Regions from separate parts of the Homo sapiens genome. Here region 1 is linked to region 2. Evidence: fine-mapped QTL for protein levels in blood plasma. A gene starts in region 2. The other region holds a variant in brackets. All regions are shown on one strand. Distances are from middle to middle.

Region 1 (2,918 bases), 55 kb before region 2:
ATCAAGCTACCAATGACTTTCTTCACAGAATTGGAAAAAACTACTTTAAAGTTCATATGGAACCAAAAAAGAGCCCGCATCGCCAAGTCAATCCTGAGCCAAAAGAACAAAGCTGGAGGCATCACACTACCTGACTTCAAACTATACTACAAGGCTACAGTAACCAAAACAGCATGGTACTGGTACCAAAACAGATATAGATCAATGGAACAGAACAGAGCCCTCAGAAATAACGCCGTATCTACAACTATCTGATCTTTGATAAACCTGAGAAAAACAAGCAATGGGGAAAGGATTCCCTATTTAATAAATGGTGCTGGGAAAACTGGCTAGCCATATGTAGAAAGCTGAAACTGGATCCCTTCCTTACACCTTATACAAAAATCAATTCAAGATGGATTAAAGACTTAAACGTTAGACCTAAAACCATCAAAACCCTAGAAGAAAACCTAGGCATTACCATTCAGGACATAGGCATGGGCAAGGACTTCATGTCTAAAACACCAAAAGCAATGGCAACAAAAGCCAAAATTGACAAATGGGATCTAATTAAACTAAAGAGCTTCTGCACAGCAAAAGAAACTACCATCAGAGTGAACAGGCAACCTACAAAATGGGAGAAAATTTTCGCAACCTGCTTATCTGACAAAGGGCTAATATCCAGAATCTACAATGAACTCCAACAAATTTACAAGAAAAAAACAAACAACCCCATCAAAAAGTGGGCAAAGGACATGAACAGACACTTCTCAAAAGAAGACATTTATGCAGCCAAAAAACACATGAAAAAATGCTCACCATCACTGGCCATCAGAGAAATGCAAATCAAAACCATAATGAGATACCATCTCACACCAGTTAGAATGGCAATCATTAAAAAGTCAGGAAACAACAGGTGCTGGAGAGGATGTGGAGAAATAGGAACACTTTTACACTGTTGGTGGGACTGTAAACTAGTTCAACCATTGTGGAAGTCAGTGTGGCGATTCCTCAGGGATCTAGAACTAGAAATATCATTTGACCCAGCCATCCCATTACTGGGTATATACCCAAAGGACTATAAATCATGCTGCTATAAAGACACATGCACACGTATGTTTATTGCGGCATTATTCACAATAGCAAAGACTTGGAACCAACCCAAATGTCCAACAACGATAGACTGGATTAAGAAAATGTGGCTCATATACACCATGGAATACTATGCAGCCATAAAAAATGATGAGTTCATGTCCTTTGTAGGGACATGGATGAAATTGGAAATCATCATTCTCAGTAAACTATCGCAAGAACAAAAAACCAAACACCGCATATTCTCACTCATAGGTGGGAATTGAACAATGAGAACACATGGACACAGGAAGGGGAACATCACACTCTGGGGACTGTTGTGGGGTGGGGGGAGGGGGGAGGGATGGCATTGGGAGATATACCTAATGCTAGATGACGAGTTAGTGGGTGCAAAGCACCAGCATGGCACATGTATACATATGTAACTAACCTGCACATTGTGCACATGTACCCTAAAACTTAAAGTATAATAATAAAAAATAAATAAATAAATAAATAAAGAAGA[C/A]GACGATCTTGATCAGACAAAACAGATTCACATCAGAAATACTGTGGTTAGGGAATATTTTCCTAGAGGAAGTAATGGAAACACATCACTGAGGAAACAAATTCGAGCTGCTTTGTGCAAAGAAGTGATGGGCATATTGTCAGGAATTTCCCGCACCAGCCCCAGGAATGGACTGGTGGGCCTACATTCTTTTTCTTTTTTTTTTTTTGGCGATGAGTCACGCTCTGTCACCCAGGCTGGAGTGCAGTGGCGCGATCTCAGCTCACTGCAACCTCCGCCTCCCAGGTTCAAGTGATTCTCCTGCCTCAGCCTCCTGAGTAGCTGGGATTACAGGTGCCCGCCACCACACCCAGCTAATTTTTGTATTTTTAGTAGAGACAAGGTTTCACCATGTTGGTCAGGCTGGTCTCGAACTCCTGACCTCGTGAGTCAGGAGGCCCACCTTGGCCTTCCAAAGTGCTGGGATTACAGGCATGAGCCACCGCCCGCCATGGGCCTGCATTCTAAGCCTTTCAGGGTAGGTGGGAGGGGGGGTGTAGCATTTGCTTTCCCTCATCAGAGGGTTCTCGCATTTCCCTAGTAAGGGAGGTCAGCGCTGCTGACTGTCCGACAGCAACTCAGCAAGTTGGGAACAACTGGCTATTTTGAAAAGGGAGAAGGCCATGTGTTTGAATCTTTCTGGAGTGAGATTTTAAACTCCCCCAGTCTCTATTCCCTGGAGCACATTAAAGGATACATCTAGCATGTCAACCATAATTTTGCATGTCTCGATGCTGAAGCCATCTGACTTGATATCTTGGCCTAAAAGACAAAATCAGTGTGACAGGAAAAATCTCTGAGCGGTGATGTCCAACTGAACTTTCCACAATCATGGAGATATTCTTTATCTGTGCCCTTCACATACAGAAGCCACTTCCATTATATTAAATAGCCACATGTGGCTAGTGACTACCAGACTGGGACAGTGCAGATGATGTCCACATTGTCCTGATGTCTCTGTATATTTGCCGTGGGCAAACAGGGCTTTAAAAAGTGCTTTTTGAACAAATAAATAACAGAATGATCAATGGTTGGGCCTTAGGTGCCCACAGGATATAAAGTCACCTGTAGTTGTTGGGCAGGGAAAAAGAAAACAGAGAGCAGGTGTGTTAATTCTAGGCTATGACCCGTGAGAGAAAGAGGTTTACTTGAACTGTCCATCTGCAGACATTTATGGACTGTGTCCCCAGCTGACTGAGAAACCTGAGGAACTGGGATCGATCCACGAGCTATTTGTGCTGCACTAAGTGAGTCCTGTCCACTTGGTGTTTGGCAGGTGGCATGAGACCCTCCCTAGTCACCA
Region 2 (2,918 bases):
AAGCCTGGGGAAGTGTCCCAAAGGAGGAGGAGCCTCAGGGGTTCCCCAAGAAACAGAATGGACAAGTAGATTGGGGAGCACAAGTTGTCCCAGGGCCGGGAGGTCAGAGACCCTGGGGGACGGGATAAGGGGGTCTGGAGGGCTCCCGGAGGTTTCCCGGGTGATTCCCGCCAGGGAAACCATGAGACACCTCCGTGTCCTGGGTTAATTACCAGTGTCAATGTTATGAGGAGGTATCGCTGGCTCCCCTTTGGAAAAATAAATCTAACCCCAGGGCTGCAGGAGACTATCCTTAGTCACAAAATGACCAGGCTATGGCCTGTCCCCCTCCATGAACAGACAGAACCCCAGTTGGAGACGGACTTTGTCTGGTAGATGCTGCCTCTCACCGTCCCTTCCCTGCAGACCCGATTCCCCTTCCCTTCCAGCTCCCCGCTAGAGTCCAATCAAAGTTTCACCCCGGCCTCCTGCATCACCCTGAGTTTTTGTGAAGTCCTAAAGTGGCCTGCTAGTGGGATCTGAGGGCAGTGATTCGCCTCGACCCGCCCAGGAAAGCGTGGTGGGTGGAAGAGAGGGAAGGCCCCGGGAGTCCCCCCACGCTCGAACAGAGTCCCGGGCTCTGGCGGCGCGGAGGTGTCGCAGGACTGCGAGGTCCTGGCTTGCGGCTTCCCCACTGCAGCACCCGGGCTGCCCCCCGCCCCAGCGCGCCGCGGGCCGGCCTGCACCCCGCCCTGCCCGGCACCCCGCCCTGCCCGCGTCCTGCCGCGCGCTTCCTACCGTGGGGCGCTTCCACTCGATGCCCCGGGTTTTGCTGGAGTAGGGCCCCAACTCCTTGAAGCCCAGGGCCGAGGGGATGGCCGGGAAGGACGGGTCCTGGAAGAGCGTCCCGGCCTCCAGGCACTCGTTCCGCAGCGCCTCGTAGTCCTGGTTGAGGTACTTGATGGCCCTGTCGTGGGAGCCCAGCCCCTCGGCCGCCTCCCGGTCCTTCGCCAGCTTGGCCGCGATGCCCGCCATGCTGCGGTCCCGGCGGCCGTACTGCGCAGAGAAAGGTCGGGGCGACTCCGCGCTGCGCTCGGCTGGGGCGCGGCCAGGGCCCGGCGCGCTGCTGCGGCCACTGCGGGCGCCGCCGCTGCGAGCGATGATTCACCGGAGGGAAGCGGCCCGGCCCGCGGGGTGTGGCCTCAGCCGCTCCCGGCCTGCTGGGCTCCCGGCCCGGGACCAGGCCATCCTGCGGCCTGCCGAGCGCCGGGAACGCCGCGACCCGGGGCCGGTGCTGCCATCTGCGGACAGCTCCCGGGATGGCGCGGCCCGGCGCCGGGGAGGCTCGCGAATCGCGGTCCAGAGTTGGGGCTCCCACCGGAACCCGAGGCCACCTTTGCAGCCCATAGGGAAGAAGGCTAGGATAGTTGTGGCCGTCCGGAAAACACCCGGGGAGTTAGCAGAGGGTCAGGTAGTGAAGTCGAGGAAACTAAACCAGCTGCCCTGAACTTTGTGCCAAACAGCGTCTTAACGGCTCTGCATACATCATCTCATTTAATCCTCCCAGCGACTCTGAAGAAGGCGCTGATATTGTCCCCATTTTACAGATGAGAAAACTGAGCCTCGGAGACGCTAAATGACGTCCCCAATGTGGCACAACAGTCACAGGCAGAACAGGGACTCTAAGCCACCGGAGGCCTATTGCAATCACAATGCTGCAATTACTACTGCTCAGCTGTTTATTTGATTATAGATAGGGTTGTCAGATTTGGCCAATAAGGCTGGGTGCGGTAGTTCACACCTGTAATCCCAACACTTTGGGAGGCCGGAGGCAGGCGGATCACCTGGGGTCAGGAGTTCGAGACCAGCCTGGTCAACATGGTGAAATTCCGTCTCTACTAAAAATACGTCGTGGCAGGCACCTGTGATCTCAGTTACTCGGGAGGCTGAGACAGGAGAAACGCTTGAACCCAGGAGGGAGAAGTTGCAGTGAGACGAGATCGCGCCACTGCGCTCCAGCCTGGGTGACAAAGCGAAACTCCATATCAAAAATAAAATAAAATAAAATGATTTGGCCAATAAAACAACAACCCTCCCAAATGTTTAATTTGAATTTCAGATAAACAACAGATACTTTTAAAGTATATGTAGGGCCCAAATATTGCATGGGCATACATACTTATTCTAAAAGAAAATATGATTCATTGTTTACCTGAAACTCATATTTAACTGGCAGGATTAGTTGGGTTACTATAGGGAGAGAGCATTTAGAATACTGCCTGTGTTGGCTACTGTGACCACTCTGTTGTGGAGCTAGGGTGTGATTCTCATCTCACACACAGAGACATGGGTGCGTGCCAAGAAATGCAGATGGGCAGAAATTACCTCCTCTTCTTCTCTACAGTAGTAGGGAAGAATTTGGGTTTCACTGGAAAACTGTGCATGGTCTACAGCAGTGGTTCTCAACTGGGGGCAGTTTTGTCCCCTACCCACCCCAGGAGACATTTGGGAATGTCTGGAGATAGTTTTTATGGTCACAGCTAGGAGATGAGGTGCTACTGGCCTTTACTAAGTAGAAGCCAGGGATGCCGCTGAACATCTTCCAATGTCCAAGATAGCTCTTGTGAACCCAGAAAATCTGAAACAGGTCTCATTTAATTTAGAAAGTTTCTTTTGCCATGGTTGAAGATGCACACCTGTGACACAGGAAGTCCTGAGGACATGTGCCCGAGGTGGTTGGGGTGCAGCTTGGTTTTATACATGTTAGGGAGGCAAGAGCCATCAGTCAAGTACATTTAAGAAATACATTGGTTTGGTTCAGAAAGGCGGGACAACTCAAAGTGGCGGGGGGTGGTGGGTGGGTAGTGGGGGTGGCTTCCAGGATATAGGTAAATATTTAAACATTTTCTGGTTGACAATTGGTTGAGTTTGTCTAAAGG

The links. A credible set is the group of variants that fine-mapping cannot tell apart. PIP is the posterior inclusion probability: the model's chance that the variant is causal. Protein levels are from the aptamer-based SomaScan assay of Sun 2018.
Region 1: its variant is the best candidate, but not a certain one, in a credible set for the plasma level of the CAPN2 protein (Sun 2018, PIP 0.54).

Annotation. Positions count from the first base shown.
Region 1 is chr1:223,765,826-223,768,743 of GRCh38, reverse strand. It overlaps CAPN2 (calpain 2), which reads right to left. Exons shown (of 21, transcript NM_001748.5): 16 at 2,313-2,377. Among named protein-coding and RNA genes, the nearest start is that of CAPN2, 55 kb to the right of the region's middle. The variant C/A (reference allele first, on the strand shown) is at 1,577.
Region 2 is chr1:223,710,737-223,713,654 of GRCh38, reverse strand. It overlaps CAPN2 (calpain 2), which reads right to left and starts at 1,116. Exons shown (of 21, transcript NM_001748.5): 1 at 778-1,116. The coding sequence starts at 1,014. RefSeq lists silencers at 650-769, 980-1,369 and enhancers at 479-1,430, 1,470-1,519.